Regions from separate parts of the Homo sapiens genome. Here all the other regions are linked to region 1. Evidence: fine-mapped expression QTL. A gene starts in region 1. Each other region holds a variant in brackets. All regions are shown on one strand. Distances are from middle to middle. Region 1 holds the start of MRPL38 (mitochondrial ribosomal protein L38). Region 2 has its middle 6.2 kb from the start of HID1. Region 3 overlaps UNK (unk zinc finger). Region 4 overlaps UNC13D (unc-13 homolog D). Region 5 holds the start of WBP2 (WW domain binding protein 2).

What was found.
Region 2: its variant is fine-mapped to the expression of MRPL38 in cerebellar hemisphere (GTEx, PIP 0.98).
Region 3: its variant is fine-mapped to the expression of MRPL38 in whole blood (TOPMed, PIP 0.97).
Region 4: its variant is fine-mapped to the expression of MRPL38 in whole blood (TOPMed, PIP above 0.99).
Region 5: its variant is fine-mapped to the expression of MRPL38 in whole blood (TOPMed, PIP above 0.99).

The regions. Positions count from the first base shown.
Region 1 is chr17:75,903,308-75,907,422 of GRCh38, reverse strand. It overlaps MRPL38 (mitochondrial ribosomal protein L38), which reads left to right and starts at 2,539. Exons shown (of 9, transcript NM_032478.4): 1 at 2,539-2,614; 2 at 2,704-2,883. The coding sequence starts at 2,548. RefSeq lists silencers at 2,134-2,613, 2,624-2,673, 2,694-2,743.
Region 2 is chr17:74,976,952-74,981,066 of GRCh38, reverse strand. No RefSeq gene overlaps it. Among named protein-coding and RNA genes, the nearest start is that of HID1, 6.2 kb to the right of the region's middle. The variant G/T (reference allele first, on the strand shown) is at 1,773.
Region 3 is chr17:75,800,014-75,804,128 of GRCh38, reverse strand. The region is part of intron 1 of UNK (unk zinc finger); the gene reads right to left. Among named protein-coding and RNA genes, the nearest start is that of UNK, 17 kb to the right of the region's middle. The variant G/A (reference allele first, on the strand shown) is at 1,804.
Region 4 is chr17:75,827,405-75,831,519 of GRCh38, reverse strand. UNC13D (unc-13 homolog D) reads left to right here. Exons shown (of 32, transcript NM_199242.3): 26 at 172-277; 27 at 351-422; 28 at 859-942; 29 at 1,038-1,158; 30 at 1,369-1,492; 31 at 2,537-2,733; 32 at 3,434-4,115. The coding sequence ends at 3,555. Among named protein-coding and RNA genes, the nearest start is that of UNC13D, 15 kb to the left of the region's middle. RefSeq lists enhancers at 1-782, 818-1,112, 783-1,771. The variant C/G (reference allele first, on the strand shown) is at 1,794.
Region 5 is chr17:75,852,202-75,856,316 of GRCh38, reverse strand. WBP2 (WW domain binding protein 2) reads left to right here and starts at 982. Exons shown (of 8, transcript NM_012478.4): 1 at 982-1,078. The coding sequence starts at 1,020. RefSeq lists enhancers at 1-158, 767-896 and a silencer at 227-396. The variant C/T (reference allele first, on the strand shown) is at 2,539.

The sequences.
Region 1 (4,115 bases):
GGGCAACATAGTGAGACCCCCATATATTTTTTTAAAATGGTAGAGCCACTGCTTCTAGTTTCAAGATATTCATCGTTATTTGCTTCAAGTTGGTACACGTGGGAATCCACGTGAAGCCTCTCTCAAACTGTTAATATCCAAGCAAGCGCCAATCAGGGTTCTAGGACAGCAAGAGGACAAGAATGGAGGAATGCACCGCCACCTGGGTGGCCAGCAGCTTCCACGCCAACTGCCAAGGCCCCATACATCTTCATCTGGAGAGGGCTGGGAGGGTCGTGGGGTAGAGCGGGTGGGTTTAGAGGCTGAAGAAAATGATTCAGAAACAAAAGGACAAGGTGGCCGGGTGCAGTGGCTCACACCTGTAATCCCAGCACTTTGGGAGGCCGAGGTGGGTGGGTCACCTGAGGTCAGTAGTTTGAGACCAGCTTGGCCAATATGGTGAAACCAAGTCTCTACTAAAAATACAAAAAATTAGCCAGGCGTGGTGGTGCATGCCTGTAATCCCAGCTACTCGGGAGGCTGAGGCAGGAGAATCACTTGAACCTGGGAGGCGGAAGTTGCAGTGAGTCGAGGTCGTGCCCCTACACTCCAGCCTGGGCGACAGAAACTCCATCTCAAAAAAAAAAAAAAAAAGGACAAGGTAAAACAGCCACGATGTAAACACACAATCCAGTTATGCTCCTGTACTGCATAACTGCAGTATGGAATGTCACAATAAGCAACTCCTTACGAGCAGGACTGGGTGTGACTGCCCCACGTATTCCCCTCCACACTTAGCATGTAGCAGGTGCACACTGCTGGGTGGATTAGAAATGACTGTGAAAGGTTTAGCTGTTTGGCTGCTGTTTATGAAAACCAGTGGAAGGTGTGGCCACTTCCTGCTGGATGGAGAGACCCTCATTCCATTCTCATTCCATCTCAAAGTGATTGTGAGGGTCAAGCTTCTGCTGGTGCCAGAGCCACTGGCCTGGTCACCACCAGCCCTGGCCTGGGATGTCAGAGCAGGCTTCCTGGAGAGACCCCTCTCCTGGGGCTGGGTGGTGGCCAGGCCAAGGTGGGGCAGTGAGGAGGTGAGAGGCAGAAGACACAGCGTATACAAAGGCCCCGTGGCCTGGAGGCAAAGTGCGATGGAAAAGTCTTGCCTTTTAGGGCAGGAGGGCCAGGGCTGGGGCAAAGGAGGGTCCCAGATTCCCCAGGCTACCAAGTTTTGCCATGGTAGAACTGGATCACAAGGGCAAGCCTGAGTCCTGCCAGAAACATTCACATCTGCACTTAACCAGGTCACTTCTGCCTTTGTGTGGATAATGAGAAGTTGGAGATAGTTGAGCTAACACACAAACCACTGCGAGCGCTTTCCAGAGGGTAATCTTTTCATCCTGACAGCTGTCAGGTAAGCACTAGTGTTAACCTGCTTTTTCCCAAATGAGGAAACCACAAGGAAGACAGTAAGGTCACGATCTGGTTTTTTTTTGGGGGGGGGGAGGGGCATTTTGAGACGGTGTCTCACTCTGGCACCGAGGTGGTGGCGCAATCTCGTCTCACTGCAGCTTCTGCCTCCCGGGTTCAAGTTAATTCTTGTGCCATAGCCTCCTGAGTAGCTGGGATTACAGGCGCCTGCCACCACGCCCGGCTAATTTTTGTATCATTAGTAGAGATACAAAAATTTTTGTATCTTTAGGGTTTTGCCATGTTCGTAGGGCTGGTCTCAAACTAATTACCTCAGATGATCCGCCCACCTCGGCCTCCCAAAGTGCTGGGATTACAGGTATGAGCCACCGCGCCCAGCCACAATCTGGGTTTTTATTACTATTATTTTATTATTATTATTATTATTGAAATAGAGTTTTCACTTTTGTCGCCCATGCTGGAGTGCAGTGGCGCGATCTCGGCTCACTGCAGCCTCCGCCTCTGCCTCCCAGGTTCAAGCGAGTCTCCTCCCTCAGCCTCCCGAGTAGCTGGGATTACAGGCGTATGCCACGCCCGGCTAATTTTTGTATTTTGAGTAGAGACGGGTTTTCACCGTGTTGGCCAGGATGGTCTCGATCTCCTGACTTCGTGATCCACCCGCCTTGGCCTCCCAAAGTGCTGGGATTCCCGGCGTGAGCCACCGCGCCCAGCCCTCAATCTGGGTTTTAAACCCAAGCAGAGTCCGGAATCGGAGCTCGCACCCCTTCTCCCAACCAGGCCTGCGTCCCTGGGGAAATCAGGACGCAGCGTCCAGGGGTTGGAGGAGGGCCCCGGCGGCCGACCCCGGTCTGTGCCGCCCCCTGGTGGCCAGCCATGGGCGAGCATATGACTGCTCTCGGCTCCGCCCCGCCGTCCAACGGGCACTTCCGGAGCCGGGCGTCTACAGACCGCGGCCACCTTCCACCTGCGCCCGAGGCAGACGGTGCAGGGGCCTCCGGGACAGGCGTCTGAGGCCTGCTCCGCAGCGCGGGCCCGGGGGCGGGCCTAGGGGCGGGGCCTGCTGTGGTGCGCTCAGGCACCGCGCTGGCCACCTGTGCCCGGGTCCTAGTGGCGGCCGCAGTGTCGCAGGCCGGAGGGAAGATGGCGGCGCCCTGGTGGCGAGCCGCGCTGTGCGAGTGTCGGAGATGGCGGGGCTTCAGCACCTCGGGTGAGGGGTGGGCAGCTCTGCGGGGGGGGGGGGGGGGGCTGTCGCCCGAGCTGTGGGGCGCCGGCCTTACGTCTTCTCTCTGCCCGCAGCCGTCCTGGGCCGCCGGACACCCCCGCTGGGGCCGATGCCCAACAGTGACATCGACTTGAGCAACCTGGAGCGGCTGGAGAAGTACCGGAGCTTCGACCGCTACCGGCGCCGAGCAGAGCAGGAGGCGCAGGCCCCGCACTGGTGGCGGACCTACCGAGAGTATTTCGGGGAGAAGACAGGTGCGGGGCGACTGGAGCAGGGGCTGCAGCCACCGCCCGGGGAACTCGGGACCCGCCGGCGTTTTCCCCGGGCGCTGGGCGAGCCTTGCCGGCGCCCTTGTGGATGCTGGGGACGCTGGGAGGGCCTGCCTGCAGACCTGTGTGCGCTATCGGCAGCTTAATCACCCCAGGATTTTTCACACCTTCTGCACCTCATTCTTGGAAAATTCGCTCCCCCTACTATTAGAGTTCCAGCTCCTAAAATATTTGCTCCTAAAATCTTGACCACCTGACTTTCCGGATTGGGATGCCGTTCTGTGCGCCTCAAATACTCTGTAGGTAACTCTGGCCACACTGCATTCTGACTGTGCGCTGCCTCTCCCCAGATTGTAAGCGCCCTGTTGACAGGGATCCTGCTTGTCTTGCCCTCCATTGGATCCTTGCACCCGAACAGTGCAAGGATGTACATGTGCAATACTTTGCTGAATGAAATTAAAGGCCTGGGCAGGGTGACTCAAAAAAGAACCCAACCTGGCCGGGCGCGGTGGCTCACGCCTGTAATCCCAGCACTTTGGGAGGCCTAGGCGGGCGGATCACCTGAGGTCGGGAGTTCGAGACCAGCCTGACCAACATGGAGAAACCCCGTGTCTGCTAAAAATACAAAATTAACTGGGCGTGGTGTCGCATGCCTGTAATCCCAGCTACTCGGGAGGCCTCTGAGGCAGGAGAATCGCTTGAACCCAGGAGGCAGAGGTTGCGGTGAGCCGAGATCGCGCCATTGCACACCAGCCTGGGCAACAAGAGCGAAACTCCGTCTCAAAAAGAAAAAAAAAAAAAGACCCCAACCTTTAAGGAACTTACAATTTATGGAGTATATGCTTTTCTTTTCTTTTCTTTTCTTTAGCATTTATAGAGGCAGTTTTGTGGTGGTTAAAGGCACAAGCGTGGAATCTAAATAGCCCGATTTAAATCCTAGCTCAGCCTCTCGGATAATGTCCTTGAGCTTGTTTCAACTGTAAAATAAAATAATTGTGTCTTTGCTACAAAATTGCTGTGAGGATTAAAAGAGGCAATTCATTGGCATTTTTGCCTAATGCCATCTCTGATGAGGGCTCAGTATGTTTTCGTTATTATTATTTTGTTTTGTTTTGTTTTAAGGCAGAGGCTCGCTCTGTTGCCCAGGCTGGAGTGCAGTGGTGCGATGACTCACTGCAACCTCTGCCTCCTGGGTTCAAGCGATTTTCCTGCTTCTG
Region 2 (4,115 bases), 930 kb after region 1:
AATCCCACCTACCAGGGAGGTTGAGGCAGGACAATCGCTTGAACCCAGGAAGCAGAGGTTGCAGTGAGCCGAGATTGTGCCATTGCACTCCAGCCTGGGCGACAGACTCCATCTCAAAAAAAAAAAAAAAAAAAAAAAAAAAGATAAATCTGAGAAAGAGTTGGCCAAAATGTGTCATTCCTATTGACTAAAGTGGGTGATCAACTGGCTCCTCCTCCTGTAATCACCCAAGCTGGAAGCCCAGGAGTTATTGTCATTCATTTGTCCAATAAATATTTATGATGTGTTAGACATGGTGCTGAGTGCTGAGGATACAGAGAACAAAACGGACTCAGTCCTTGCTCACGGGAAGCTTGAATTTCAGTAGAAGAGACAGATGTCAAACAATTAAAAAGACAAAAATAGGCTGGACACGATGGCCCATGCCTGTAATCCCAGCACTTTGGGAGGCCGAGGCGGGCAGATCACGAGGTCAGGAGATCCAGACCATCCTGGCTAACACGGTGAAACCCCGTCTCTACTAAAAATACAAAAAAAATTAGCCGGGCATGGTGGCGGGCGCCTGTAGTCCCAGCTACTCGGGAAGCTGAGGCAGGAGAATGGTGTGAACCCGGGAGGCGGAGCTTGCAGTGAGCCGAGATGGCGCCACTGGACTCCAGCCTGGGCGACAGAGCGAGACTCTGTCTCAAAAAAAAAAAAAAAAGCAAAAATATTTACAATAGTGTTAAGAACATGGGGGACTGAAGTAACAATGGTGGAGCTGGGAAATCTCTCAGGGAAAGAGACTTTTTTTTTTTTTTTTCGAGGCAGAGTCTCACTCTGTCACCAAGGCTGGAGTGCAGTGACACGATCTTGGCTCACTGCAAGCTCCGCATCCCAGGTTCAAGTGATTCTCCTGCCTCAGCCTCCTAAGTAGCTGAATGATCTCGCCCCAACCCGAGTAGCTGGGATTACAGGCACCTGCCACCGCAACCGGCTAATTTTTGTATTTTTAGTTGAGATGGGTTTCACCATCTTGGCCAGGCTGGTCTTGAACTCCTGACCTCGTGATCCAACCCCCACCCCCCTCGGGCTCCCAAAGTGCTGGGATTACAGGCGTGGGCCACTGCGCCCGGCCGGAAAGAGACTTTTAAGATAAGACCCTGGAGGACGAAAAGGGGACAGTCACATGAGGAGTGGGAGGAGGGATGTCCCAGGCAGAAGGAACAAACTATACAAAGATCCTGGGCAGAAAGACTTAGAGTGGTTGAGAAAAATGAAGGAAGACCCACGTGGGTGGAACCCAGGGACTGAAGGGAGGAGAAGCAGGCTCAGACTTTGCGGGGCCTTGGAGGTTGCTCCTGACGCAGTGCTCAGAGGAGTCTTCATGGGGGAGTGATGTGAGCTCCATGTTCAAATTACTTGGGCTGTTCTGCAGAGAGTAGGTGGGAGAGGGGATGAGTGGAGGCTGCTACAGGTGGGAGGTTATGGGACCCTGGCAAAGGTGAGGGCGGGGGAGATGAAGGGCCGTAGGATGATACAATATATATGTTTGATGGATAACACCATAGGACTTGGTGATGAATTGGTTGGGGTTGGTGGGGGGTTGGTAGCAGGAAGAGAGGCACCAAGGGTGACATGGGCCAGGCGTGGTGGCTCATGCCTGTAATACCAGAACTTTGGGAGGCTGAGGCACGCGGCAGATCACTTGAGGTCAGTAGTTCGAGACCAGCCTGGCCAACATGGCGAAACCTCGTCTTTGCTAAAAATACAAAAATTAGCGGGGTGTGGTG[G/T]TGCACACCTGTAGTCCCAGCTATTCGGGAGGCTGAGGCAGGAGAATCACTTGAACCCAGGAGGCGGAGGTTGCAGTGAGCTGAGATCGCGCCGCTGCGCTCCAGCTTGGGTGACAAGAGCAGAACTCCATCTCAAAAAATAAATAAAAATAAAAATAAAAATAAAAATAAAATATGGTACCAAATTCTCTGACACTCTTTCCATGGAGAGGTGGGGTAGAGGTCCTCTCCCTTGGAATCTGGTGACCTTGTGACTATTTTGACCAATAGAGTGTGGTGAAAGTGACTTTCTATGTTACTTCCCTCCCAGACTGGATGCTGAACAGATATGCAACTTCCCCCTTGTTCTCTTGAACACCCTCTTTCCTTTTCTTTCTCTCTCTCTCTTTTTTTTTTTTTCTTGAGACAGGGTCTCGCTCTGTCACCCAGGCTGAGTGCAGTGGTGAGATCATAGCTCATTGCATTCTCAACCTCTCAGGCTCAAGCGATCCTCCTGCCTCAGCCTTCTGAGTAGCTGAGACTACAGGTAATTGCCACCACACCTGGCTAGTATTTTTTTCTTATTTTTTATAGAAATGGAGTCTTGTTATGTTGCCCAGGCTGGTCTCGAACTCCTGGGCTCAAGCGATCCTCCGGCCTTGGCCTTCCAAAGTGCTGGGATCACAGGTGTGAGCCACTGTGTCCACTTCCTATTTTCATATGCATCTTTTGGGTGTTCCCTCACAGAGCCCAGTGTCCTTGCTGAGAGAGGCCCAAGCCACATGGAGAGGTCACACGTTGGTGTGTCTGTCTTCAGCCCCAGCTGAACCCAGTCTTTGGGTCCTGCCAGCTCAGGCATCAGATGTATGAGTAAAGCCACCTGGTAATTTCAGCCCCCCAGCTGTTCCAAGTTAACCCCAGCACCAGCCATTCTGGTCTTCTCAGCTGAGACCGCAGACATTGTGAAGCACAGACCAGCCACCGCAGCTGAGTCCTGTCTGAATTCCTGACCCATGGAATTTGTGAACATAATAAAATGGTTATAGTTTTACACCAAGTTTGGTGGAAAGGTTGTTATGCAGCAATGGTACCTAGAACACATATGAGATAGAAAACCAAGTTCCAAGACTCCACCTTGTCAATACCACCTGCCTGCTTCCTCTCCATCTATCTGTGACTGCTTTGGTTGAGCCCTCATCAGCTCTCACCTCCCAGCTGGATTCCCCATGTTCAGGTCATTTCTCTCTCCTGCTGCAGCCAGGATGGCTTCATTAAGATCTAATGACATCTCATGACATCACTCCCCTGCTTCTCAGGCTCTTTGTTGCTCATGGAATAAGATTAATGCCTTTTATCAGGATGTATGCAGCCCTTTATGGTCTGCTCCTGGTCCACTTCAAGCGTATCTCCTGTCTCTCTACATTTCACTCAAATCAGGTGTCTGTCTTCCTCCCTCCCTCCTCTCTCTTTTTTTGATTTTTAAAAATATTATAATAGTCTGGGCGCGGTGGCTTACGCCTGTAATCCCAGCACTTTGGGAGGCCGAGGCGGGCGGATCACAAGGTCAGGAGATCGAGACCATCCTGGCTAACATGGTGAAACCCTGTTTCTACTAAAAAAAATACAAAAAATTAGCCGGGTGTGGTGGTGGGCGCCTGTAGTCCCAGCTACTCGGGAGGCTGAGGCAGAAGAATGGCATAAACTCGGGAGGCAGAGCTTGCAGTGAGCCAGGACAGCACCACTGCACTCCAGCCTGGGCGACAGAGAGAGACTCTGTCTCACACACACACAAAAAATTATAATAGAGGCCGGGGGTGGTGGCTCATGCCTATAATCCCATCTCTTTGGGAGGCCAAGGTGGGTGGATCACCTGAGGTCAGGAGTTGGAGACCAGCCTGGCCAGCAAGGTGAAACCCCATCTCTACTAAAAATACAAAAATTAGCCTGTTGTGGTGGCGCGTATCTGTAATCCCAGCTACTCAGGAGGTTGAGGCTGGAGAATCACTTGAACCTGGGAGGCAGAGGTTGCAGTGGGCCAAGATCACGCCACTGCACTCCAGCCTGGGTGACAGAGAGAGACTCTATCTCAAAATAAAAAATTAAATAAATAAATAAAATAAAAATATTATTATTTTTATATGCCCAGCTAAATTTTTGTATTTTTAGTAGAGACAGGGTTTCACCATGTTGGCCAGGCTGGTCTCAAACTTGGGACCTCAGGTGATCCACCTGCCTCAGCCTCCCAAAGTGCTGGGATTACAGGCGTGACCCACTGCTCTTGGCCTCAGTAAGTGTTTGTTGGATGATTGACGGTTGAACTCAGAAAAAGGGTGCCAGGGAGGGCCATGACAGCCATAGACCTGC
Region 3 (4,115 bases), 100 kb after region 1:
GATGCAAAATCCCTGATAGAACTATAGCCTGCATTTGGAACATGTGTGTAGGAATGGAGAGCTTGCCTTTGTTTTCACTTTTGCCAGCACAGGAAGTATACAAGGCAGTTTAACATGACATATGATTTAAACATTTGCTGTCATCAACATGACTTCCCTGAAGCATAGGGTTTGCATAAGCACTGTTTTACTTTGGAGTTTTAGGTTGAATTCATTAACAAACATTACCTAGTCTGCAGCAAAAGCTAATTTCCAAAGCCATTCAGCATTCAATAGTGGTTGGGAGCGATTCTCCTCATTCAGAAAATTTTCAATCTCAGCCCTGAGCTCAAAAAGTTGAAAGAAAACTACCACTGCTAAGCCATCAAACTACTGCGCGGCAGGGCACATCAGAATATTCAGCTTCTATTTCTGACAAAAACTTATGGAACTGATGATGATTCACAAAACCAAGTAAAATTACTGATGCTAAGAGTTCAATAACACATGATAAATTAAGATATTTTCTGCAAAGTACCTGCTGATGAATAACACAATGAATAAACCACCTTACATTTTCACAAGTTTTGTAAATTTGTCCAATTATTCTTCCGCTGTACACATATTTTTACCACCACCAGCTGTAAAAGATACTAGCAGATTACACTTTAGGTTGTACTGAATTAGTGTTTTCTTAGCTGTGGACTCACCGACAGCCAGGAAAAACCACATGAAATCGGCCTTCTTTTTGATGATGTCTGGCTCTGTCACCAGGCTGAAATGCAGTGGCGTGATCTAGGCTCACTGCAACCTCCGCCTCCCGGGTTCAAGTGATTCTTCTGCCTCAGGCTCCCAAGTAGCTGGGACTACAGGTGCCTGCCACAATGCCCAGCTAAATTTTTTTGTATTTTTTAGTAGAGACGGGGTTTCACCGTGTTGGGAGATCGATGGTCTTGATCTCCTGACCTCATGATGTGCCCGCCTTGGCCTCCCAAAGTGCTGGGATTACAGGTGTGAGCCACCGCGTCCGGCCTGTAATTTTTGTATTTTTAGTAGAGACGAGGTTTCACCATGTTGGCCAGGGTGGTCTCAATCTCCTGACCTCGTGATCCGCCCACCTTGGCCTCTCAAAGTGCTGGGATTACAGGTGTGAGCCACCGCGTCCGGCCTGTAATTTTTGTATTTTTAGTAGAGACGAGGTTTCACCATGTTGGCCAGGGTGGTCTCAATCTCCTGACCTCGTGATCCGCCCACCTTGGCCTCTCAAAGTGCTGGGATTACAGGTGTGGGCCATGGTGCCCGGCCTTCTTTTTTAATTGACTACTGACATTGCTCCTAATGTCCTCAACATTTTGAGACACTGTTCCTGCTGAAAAGCTAACACTCTCAAACAAAAATGTGTTTTATCTGGACACACTTCTCCAGCTGCTGCAGTCAAACACAATTTAATTAACTCAACATCAGTAAATGGCTTTCCTTGCCTAGCTAACAAATGAGCCACTCAGAAACCTGCTTCAGTTGTAGCCTGCAACTGAAACTACAAAAATGTAGTTTTAATTCTTGTGAAGAAATTCTGCTGTAAGGAAATATTCCTAGCTGCATGCAGTGGCTCATCCCCGTAATCCCAGCAACACAGGAGGCGGAGGTGGGAGGATCACCTGAGCCTAGGAGTTTGAGGGCAACATAGCAAGACCCCATCACTAAAACAGTTTTAAAACATTTTTTTAAAAAACTAAGCCAGGCATGCACCTGTAGTCCCAGCTACTTGGGAGGCTGAAGTGAAAGGATCACTAAACCCAAGAGTTTGAGGTTGCAGTGAGCTAC[G/A]GTTGCACCACTGCATGCCAGCCTGGGTGACAGAGCGAGACCCTGTCTCAAAAAAAAAAAAAAAAAAAAAAAAAAAAAAAAAAGACATCTGTGCTGAAAAAATCCATCAGCATTATCAGACAAAGCACTTATCACAAGATTCCCAGAAAAGCAAGCAATGGTCAGAAAAAAATTTTTAGGTCAGGCGCAGTGGCTCACTCCTGTAATCCCAGCCCTTTGGGAGGCCAAGGCGGGCAAATCACTTAGGGTCAGGAGTTTGACGCCAGCCTGGCCAACATGGAGAATCCCATCTCTACTAAAAATACAAAAAATTACCCAGGCGTGGTGGCTCACACCTATAATCCCAACTACTTGGGTGGCTGAGGCACAAGAATCACTTGAACCAGGGAAGTTGAGGTTGCAATGAGCTGAGCGCACCACTGTACTCCAGCCTGGGCATCAGAGCAAGACTCTGTCTCCAAAAAAAAAAAAAAGGCTGGGGGGAGCCGGGTGCAGTGGCTCACACCTGTAATCCCAACACTTTGCGAGGCTGAGACGGGTGGATCACAAGGTCAGTAGTTCAAGACCAACCTGGCCAATATGGTGAAACCCCGTCTCTACTAAAAATACAAATTAGCCAGGTGTGGTGGCGGGCGCCTGTAGTCCCAGCTACTCAGGAGGCTGAGGCAGGAGAATCGCTTGAGCCCAGGAGGTGGAGGCTGCAATGAGCAGAGATCATGCCACTTCACTCCAGCCTGGGCGACAGAGTGATCTCAAAAAAAAAAGGAAAAATAAATTTTAAAGGAATATTTCCTTCTTTATTTAAATAAAGAGACAGGGTCTCACTCCGTTACCAGGCTGGAGTGCAGTAGTGTAATCACAGCTCATTGCAATCTTGACTCCTGGGCTCAAGGTGTCCTCCTGCCTCGGTCTCCCAAAGTGCTGGGATTACAAGCATAAGCCACCATGCCCAGTCACAGCTATCTTTATTATTGGGTGCTTTGCCACCAAATGTGTTAACAAATAATCCACATGCCACCGAGCCTTAAAAGTAAAATACTTGAAGTGCATTTTTCTCTTCCTCTCTTCTTTTGACATAAGAGGTATGCACTGGTGATGAAGAACGTATAAAACATGGTATGCTGGCTGGGTGCAGTGGCTCACACCGGTAATCCCAGCACTTTGGGAGGTCGAGGCGGGCGGATCATGAGGTCAGGAGATCGAGACCATCCTGGCTAACATGGTGAAACCCCGTCTCTACTAAAAATACAAAAAATTAGCCGGGCGTGGTGGCTGGCGCCTGTAGTCCCAGCTACTCAGGAGGCTGAGGCAGGAGAATGGTATGAACCCGGGAGACAGAGCTTGCAGTGAGCCCAGATCACGCCACTGCACTCCAGCCTGGGCGACAGAGTGACACTCCGTCTCAAAAAAAACAAAAAATGTGGTATGCTGACACGTGCAGCAATGAGAAGCAATGAGCATCACATATAGTCAGTCTCCTGTTGCAACTACTTGAGTCTGTAGTTGAAGTGCACAAGCAGCCAAGACAACAGAGAAACGAATGAGTGCAGGTTCAAAGGAAGCGTTATTTTATTTATTTTTTATTTTTTGAGACAGAGTCTCGCTCTGTCACCCAGGCTGGAGTGCAGTGGCGCGATCTCAGCTCACTGCAAGCTCTGCCTCCTGGGTTCATGCCATTCTCCTGCCTCAGCCTCCCGAGTAGCTGGGATTACAGGCGCCCGCCACCATGCCCAGCTAATTTTTTTATTTTTAGGAGAGGCGGGGTTTCACTTTATTAGCCAGGATGGTCTCAATCTCCTGACCTCATGATCCGCCCGCCTCGGCCTCCCAAAGTGCTGGGATTACAGGCATGAGCCACCGCGCCCAGCCCAAAGGAAGCTTTATTTAGGGACTCTTTGAAATTCATACAATCGTCACATCACGAAATATCTTTTCAACCATTGAAAAAATGTGAAGGGAGGGCACAGTGGCTCATGCCTGTAATCCCAGCACTCTGAGAGGCCAAGGCGGGTGGATCGCTTGAGCTCAGGAATTGGAGACCAGCCTGGGCAATGTGGCAAAACGCTGTCTCTACCAAAAAAATACAAGAATTAGCCGGGTGTGGTGGTGCACACCTATAGTCCCAGCTACTCAGGAGGCTGAGGCAGGAGGATTCTTTGAGCCTGGGAGGTCGAGACTGCAGTGAGCCAAGATTGTGCCACTGCACTCCAGCCAGGAGGATAGACTGAGACCTGTCTCAAAAGAAAGTGAAAACAATTCTTACCTTGTGGGCCTTAAAAAAGCAGGCAGCAGGCTGGATTTGGCATGCAAGC
Region 4 (4,115 bases), 76 kb after region 1:
CACCCTCTCCCCAGCCTCACCTGGGGTGGGAGGCGGAGGGGGAGGTTGGGGGTGGGAGGAGCTGGGGTGGGGCTGGGTCACTGAGGCCGCCCCTTTCTCAAGAGCGTCTTTGCTTCCTCCTCCGCCACCGCCCTGCCGTGCTGTGTCCGCATCCCTCCGGCCCCGCCCCAGCCTCCTGACCCTGCTCTGGACCCACACACTCACAGTGCTGGTGGAGGCGGCCGCCTCCCAGCGCAGCTCATCCCTGGCTTCCAACAGGCTGAAGATTGCCCTGCAGGTAACAGAACCGGTCACAGCAATGATAACCCTGGTGGGAGGGTGCCTGGGGTCACCTCTGATATCTCCCCCAGAACCTGGAGATCTGCTTCCACGCTGAGGGCTGTGGCCTGCCACCCAAGGCCCTGCACACTGCCACCTTCCAGGTAGGGGCTTTGGGTGAGCTTCCCCGTAGGAAGTCTGGGGAGCCTGCCTTTTGGCACTCACCTATGTCCAGGGTCGGCTACATAATTTATGGGGCCCAGTACAAAATGAAAAACTGGGCCCCTTATTCAAAAGTTATTACAAATTTTAGAACGGTGACGACAGAACCTGAAACCAAGCCTGGGTCCTCCTAAGCACAGGGGCCCTGTGTGCCCGCATGGGGGGTGGGGTCGGGGAAGCACGCCTGTGAAGCCAGCCCTGTCTGTGCCTCTCCTGCTGTCTGTCTGGCCTGAGGGTGGCCCCAGCCCGTTGTCCCATGACCCAATACTTTCCATTTCAAACGGACATGTTACCCTTGACAGTGAGCTCCTGGAGGGCAGGCCTGGGCTGTGGTTGGGCGTGCAGTCCAGGTGGATCCTCAGCTGTATGTGTTCCCAGGCTCTGCAGAGGGACCTGGAGCTGCAGGCGGCCTCCAGCCGGGAACTCATCCGGAAGTACTTCTGCAGCCGAATCCAGCAGCAGGTGAGGCCCCTCCCTCGCACTGCGCCCTCTGCAGGCCCTGGAGCACCCCGCTCCCGCTGTGACCCTGCTGACCCTGCCCCTGCTCCCCACCCCAGGCAGAAACCACCTCTGAGGAGCTGGGGGCTGTGACAGTCAAGGCCTCCTACCGCGCCTCTGAGCAGAAGCTGCGTGTGGAGCTGCTCAGCGCCTCCAGCCTGCTGCCCCTGGACTCCAATGGTGAGTGGAGGCTGCCTTTGGCCACTCTCCATGGTCCCGTCCTGGCCCTCCTGTCTCAGCGACCCTGGGGGCTTCGCTCACCCTGCAGGAGCTCTGGGTGCATTTCCTCCAGTTACCAGGAGGGGTCAGTGCCGCTGAGCAGAGCATAGCTGCTGGGGTGGGGTGCCTGGGAGACCCTCAGCTGACGCACACTCCCCGGCCACTTACCAGGCTCCAGCGACCCCTTTGTCCAGCTGACCTTGGAGCCCAGGCATGAGTTCCCTGAGCTGGCCGCCCGGGAGACCCAGAAGCACAAGAAGGACCTTCACCCATTGTTTGATGAGACCTTTGAATTGTGAGTGGGTCCCGTTCTTCTCCCAGTCCCTCCCCTCATCTCTCCCCACTGGGCTCCCTCAGGCCTGCTCCTCCTGGCTGGGGCCAAGGGGCTCCCCTGAGATGGCCACATTTGGGCCCAAGGGATGGGGCATCTGGGACAAGAGTTTGCAGCTGGATGTGGTGGCTCACACCTGTCATCACAGCACTTTGGGAGGCCGAGGCAGGCGGATCACTTGAGGTCAGGAGTTCAAGACCAGCCTGGCCAACAGTCTCTACTAAAAATACAAAATTAGCCGGGCATGATGGTGGGTACCTGTACT[C/G]TCAGCTACTCGGGAGGCTGAGGCAGGAGAATTGCTTAACCCAGGAGGCAGAGGCTGCTGAGATGGTGCCACTGCACTCCAGCCTGGGCGACAGAGTGAGACTCCATCTCAAAAAAAAAAAAAAAAAAAAAGAGGGCCAGGCGTGGTGGCTCATGCCTGTAATCTCAGCACTTTGGGAGGCCAAGGCGGGCGGATCACGAGGTCAGGAGATCAAGACCATCCTGGCTAACATGGTGAAACCCCGTCTCTACTAAAAACAAAAAATTAGCTGGGTGTGGTGGGACACGCCTGCAGTCCCAGCTACTCGGGAGGCTGAGGCAGGAGAACCACTTGAACCCGGGAGGCGGAGGTTGTAGTGAGCCAAGATGGCGCCACTGCACTCCAGCCTAGGTGACAGAGCAAGACTCCGTCTCAGAAAAAAAAGTTTGCTTCCCTTGGGGGAAGGGGTGGACTCCCAGGTGTTTAACTTAGGGACTTCCAGGGAAGGGTCCTGTCTCTGAGGTTCTCAGTAACCTGCTCCTAGTTCCTCAGCACAGGTGAACAGGGAACACAGGACCGCTGGTTTAAAGCATCAGCCCACGGTCAGAGCAGGCATTGCACCACATGGCTGAGAGGTGCCAGGCTGAGAGCTGGCTTTGCAGTCCAAACCCTGGCTGGTTCCCAACACCAAGTGGGTGAACCCATGTGCCGAGGCTGGGGTGGCTGTGCTGGGGCTGGCAGCAGAGCCCTGACTCTCCCCGCAGCCTGGTGCCTGCTGAGCCGTGCCGCAAGGCTGGGGCATGCCTCCTGCTCACCGTGCTGGACTACGACACGCTGGGGGCCGACGACCTGGAAGGCGAGGCCTTCCTGCCGCTGCGTGAGGTGCCCGGGCTGAGTGGCTCTGAGGAGCCTGGTGAGGTGCCTCAGACCCGCCTGCCCCTCACGTACCCCGCACCCAACGGTAGGCCTGAGCCCAGGGCAGGGTGGTGCGGGGACGGGAGCCTGTAAAGCTCAGGCAGGGGCCCCAGAGAGGTGATGCCAGGGTCGGAGAACAGCTTCCCTGGAGACGGGAGCCAGTGGGACAGCCACGGCCCATCTCTCGGTCTAATCAAGAGACCAGTGAACTTTAAGCTAAGTGTAACGTGACTCTCCTTGCATGGGGAAGTCACCAAGAAGTTTAACTGGGGAGAAGGGCCTGGATCTCACTCGGCGGGGCCGCTTCCCTGCAGAGCATTTTTGATACCAGCAACGGTCTGATGCTTGTGCACTTATTATGAGCAAGTGCTAAGCACTTTATGCATTCCAGCCAACGAAGCAGATATTAGCACTCTTTTACAGATGAGTAAACCGAGGCATGAAAAGGTTAACTTGCTAGCTTTAGGTTCTCGTATAAAAAGGTAATAGTCAAACCTCAGGCACATCTCAGCCCCTCGCTGCAGTCAGGACAGTGTCCCAGCAGCACTCTGTCTGTTACGCGACCCGACCGGATGCGTCTGTCAGACCACCTCCTGGGCTGGGCTGGCGCGGGTCTGTCACTTGTTTCCTTCCAGGTTGTTGGGGAGATGGAGCAGTGTTGTGTACCCCCCCACACACTCTTCTCTGCCACCACCAGGCACTGCCCTCTCCCCTGGCATCTGACCCCCAAACCCCTCTCTCCGCAGGGGACCCAATCCTGCAGCTGCTGGAGGGCCGGAAGGGTGACCGAGAAGCCCAGGTCTTTGTGAGGCTGCGGCGGCACCGGGCCAAGCAGGCCTCCCAGCATGCCTTGCGGCCGGCACCGTAGCCGTAGAGGTTTGCGGTGGGGCTGGGTCCCCGGTGGGGACTTGCAAGGGCTTTCCTGTAGGGTCTGGGGCTTCCCCGCCACATCGCGGCCCTCCAGCCTGGCCTAACACTTGGGGAGCCCCAGCATGCGGAGTGCCCAGAGTGCAGACCTCCCCTGCCTCCCATGGTGATGGGGGCTCAGCAGCGACATCTCTACTCCCGCCTCCCTGCCTCCAGCCCTGGCTGCAATGTCTCTACCACATCCCAGCACCAGGGGGAGCAAACCCTGCCCCTGCCCGCCTCTCAGAAAAGCTGCTGTGGTGGGCAGGGGATTGGGCCATCTGTCTCCTGGCCCTGGCCCATCTGCCTCCTGGCCTTCCTGTTCCAGCCACTGGGGTGGGGGCCAGGTTCACTGGGACCAGGGCTACAGGCACAGAGTCTCCTGGAAAAGGGAGAGGGGACCCTGCCAAAGATGAGGCTCCAGCTGCCCTGGGGGGAGGGTGGTGGCCATTACTAGAGGGGGCCTGGGTCCTCTCCCCAGGGGCTGCCAGCATCCAGGCCAGGAAGCCTGGAGCCAAGAAC
Region 5 (4,115 bases), 51 kb after region 1:
ACTACCACGTGGGAAGTGCAGCCCCCTCTCTCCGCCTCACGGATTCAGCTCGGAGGTGCAGGGGTTTGGTGGGGGGCGGTTAGGGAATGACAGCTGCCCCGTGGAGGACGCCCAGGGCTGGGTCACGAGCTGACAGGAGTCAGCCTTATTCTGTAAATCCTAGTTATCAGGATGCCGGTTTCGCGCCGTGCCCAGTCCCACTCAGCCTTCAGTCTTCCGGCCGGGACCCCGCTGGGCGCTAAGGGGGGAGCGGCGCCACCGCGAGGCCGGAGAGGGGGCTGCGAGGGGCGCCCGGCCGGCCTGCGAACGTGGTGGGAGCCAGGCGGGGCACACGGCCTCCCCTTCCCATGAGGGACTCTCCCCGCCCCCCGGGCTCAGCGCTGGGAGTGGTGAGATGGATGGCGGGGTGATCCGACGCCGCCAGCCCACCGCGTCCCCAAGAGCCGGGGCCTCCGGCTCAGCTAAACGCCCCAGAGTCACGCATGCGCCCCATAAACGTCTGCTGAGTGAACGAAAGCTCCCCATCCACAAGGGGACAGCTCGGCGCTCCCACGCCATGTCCAGGTCGCATTCGACCAGCAGGACTTCCCTTAACGCGCTGCCGGAGTCCCCAAGATCGCGCCCCTGCCAGGAGCGGAACTGTTTATTTCCGTCCGGCTGAAGAGGCGGGGTGGGGATGGCACAAGCCGATTGGTTACGCAAAATGTGGAACCAATTCAGGCCTATGATCCAGGAGACTACAAGTTCCAGAATGCATCCTTCCTCCAGCATAGGGACAGGCCGAGGCTGCGGGGGCGTTGCCTGCTGGGAATTGTAGTCTTCATCTTGTTTGTTGCGCAGGAGGAACTGGAAGGAGGGAGTAAACTATTACCACGTGACGTTCGGGTCAGGTGTTTGGGCCAGCCTCCGCACTCGAGCTTTGATTGGCTGACTCTAATAAGAAGACGCCACTAGGGGCGGGGCGAAGAGGGGCGCAAGCTCATTGCGTTTTGAGTCTCGGGACCCCTGTTGGAGAGACTATGGCGCTCAACAAGAATCACTCGGAGGGCGGCGGAGTGATCGTCAATAACACCGAGAGGTGAAAACACTGCGGAAGGATCCTGGAGGACCAAAGTTCGGGTGTCGAGGAAGTGGGCGGTGGGTGGTGGGTGGTGGGGAATAAGCCCCTGAAGAGGGAGCACTGATGGAGTGAGGTTGGTGGGGAACGGCTGGGGGCGGGGTTGGAGGAAGGTGGGTGGGCCGTGGGGGAGAGCCCGGGAGGTTGTGATCAGCTGGGAGGCGGGGGTGGGACGTCTGCATGGGGACCTGGTATGGGGCCCCCGGTGGGGCCTAGGGGTGATTCTTGAACCCCTTCCCAGACTTGTGATTTCAGTAGCTGGGAGGAGCCCCAAACAAAAATAATTGTCACTTATTGGATGTCTACAACGTTACTACGTGTCAGGCTCTGCGCCTTTTCTACCTTATTTAATAAATTCTGTGCAGTATAATCTACTACTGTCCACATTTCACAGGTAGGGAAAGTGGAGGGCAGAAAGGTTAAGTAACTTGCCCGAGATCGCAACTGTGTAAGTAACAGAGGTGGTAATTCCAGGAAAGGAGTCTTGACTCCAAAGTTAATAGGATTAACCACCAGCATACAGGCTTCCAGTATGTTCCAGAACTGTTCAGGTTCCCGGTAAAAAACTGAGGTCCCAGAGGTGAAATTAAACAGATGACGTTTGTCAGGTGTCTAACAGTTCCTGGCACTGTGTGGGTCCGTAGTCATTCCCTTGCCTCTCTCTTGAATGCCTGTTGGTTTGGGTCACCTCGGAAGGCAGAGCTCTCCTAATTCAAGGTTCTTTCCACTCCATCCTCCCCACCCCTTGCTCATTGCATCCTGTCTCTCCTCCAGTCTCTGCCAAGAGAAGCCTTAAATGGCCTCTGTCTCCTTTTGTTCCTTGGGTATTGAAAATCAGACCAGCCAGCCCTGGGTTGAACTATGCCGACCCTGAATTGCCTCTTGAAGGCAGAAGGAGCTTAGGAGGCACCTGAGTCCCCAAAGGAGACATCGTGGAGTCAGAGCCCTGTACCCAGCTAAGGCCAGCATCCAGCTGCCCTGTGACTTGGGAATGTTTGATGAGTCAGAGGAAAATGCCTAGAGTGACCCAGCATGCTCACTTTCCCTCTATCTTACCCGCTCAGAGTTTCATGGGCCCAGCCTGTTGCTGGTAATTCCTTCTTTTCTCTGAGCAGTACTTCTCTTCTCTTTTTTTTTTTTTTTTTTTTTTTTTTTTAGATGGAGGCTTGCTCTGTCGCCCAGGCTGGAGTGCAGTGGCACGATCTCAGCTCACTGCAACCTCCGCCTCCTGGGTTCAAGCGATTATCCTGCCTCAGCCTCCCCAGTAGTTGGCATTACAGGCACCCGCCACTACACCCAGCTAATTTTTTGTATTTTTAGTAGACATAGGGTTTCACCATGTTGGGCAGGCTGGTCTCGAACTCCTGACCTCGTGATCCACCCTCCTCGGCCTCCCAAAGTATTGGGATTACAGGAGTGAG[C/T]CACCGCGCCCAGCCATTTTCCTTTGCTTATACCAGTTGTTTCCCACTTACCCTTCCCCAGTCAGAGAAAGTTGTGATATATGGGGGGAGGCAGAAGACAAACAGAACCGTGTGAACCTTTTTATCATGTAATCAGAGACACCTCACACTGTTTTGTTGCATCTCTGTGTGTGAGTCAGTTCCCAGGCCTGGCCAGCTTTTCGTGCCATTTGGCAACATCTCTGGGGACTGTTTTTCTTTCTGTCTCTGTGGAACTTTCTGAGACAAGAATGTATCTATCCTGCTCGGCCTTCTACCTGGCTTAGGGCTCAGTCCTGCTAAGTAAGGTGTGCCTTCAGCCTGCTGTTTTAGAAAGTGCTTCAGCCTGCTGTCTGAAAAAGTTGTATCTATAACAATTGAAGTGTTAAGTCCAGTGTCCAAAATTTGATAATTAGGCTGGGCATGGTGGCTCACGCCTGTAATCCCAGCACTTTGGGAGGCTGAGGTGGGTGGATCACTTGAGGTCAGGAGTTTGAAACCCGCCTGACCAACATGGTAAAACCTCGTCTCTACTAAACACAAAAAATTAGCCAGGCGTGGTGGCGCATGCCTGTAATCCCAGCTACTTGGAAGGCTGAGACAGGAGAATCGCTTGAACGCAGGAGGTGGAGGTTGCAGTGAGCTGAGATCACGCTATGTTGCACTGCAGCCTGGGCAACAAGAGTGAAACTCCGTCTCAAAAAAATAAAAAATTATAATTAAAATAGTGAACGTTACTCTTCAAGTCGTGAACTCCTTTGACAATGATGAAAGCTGTGGACTCTCCTCCCAGAAAAATGCACATATGACATACGTGATCATCTCAAGGGCTTCATGGACTTTCCTGCAAACCCCGCTTAAGAACCCAGGTTTAAAAGAACCCCGAAGGACGTCCTATTGTGATCTGTACAGTCATCTCTTAGACATGTTTATATTTTAGGCTTGAAAAACAAACCAGCAAAAACAGAACATCTATCACAAGGACTTAAAAGAAAATAGAAGAGTTGGCCGGGCGCAGTGGCTCACGCCTGTAATCCCTGCACTTTGGGAGGCCGAGGCAGGTGGATCACGAAGTCAGGAGATCGAGACCATCCTGGCTAACACGGTGAAACCCCGTCTCTACTAAAAATACAAAAAATTAGCCAGTCGTGGTGGCGGGCGCCTGTAGTCCCAGCTACTTGGGAGACTGAGGCAGGAGAATGGCATGAACCCAGGAGGCGGAGCTTGCAGTGAGCCGAGATCACGCCACTGCACGCCAGCCTGGGTGACAGAGTGAGACTCCGTCTCAAAAAAAAAAAAAAAAAATAAAGAAAATAGAAGAGTTAAGCCAGATTATCTAACTTGCTTGAGGGATGATGGCCTCTTCAGAGCCCTGTAGCTCTGCTACCATGTTGATCATTTGGGGGCTTTATAAGCGGGGTTTGGGAAATTTTACAGAACCCCCAACCTGCTCATTTCTTCCATGGCTATATTAATGGGTTTTTTTGTTGGTTTTTAGTTTTTTTGTAGAGATGAGGTCTCACCATGTTGCCCAGGCTGGTCTCAAACTCCTAGGCTCA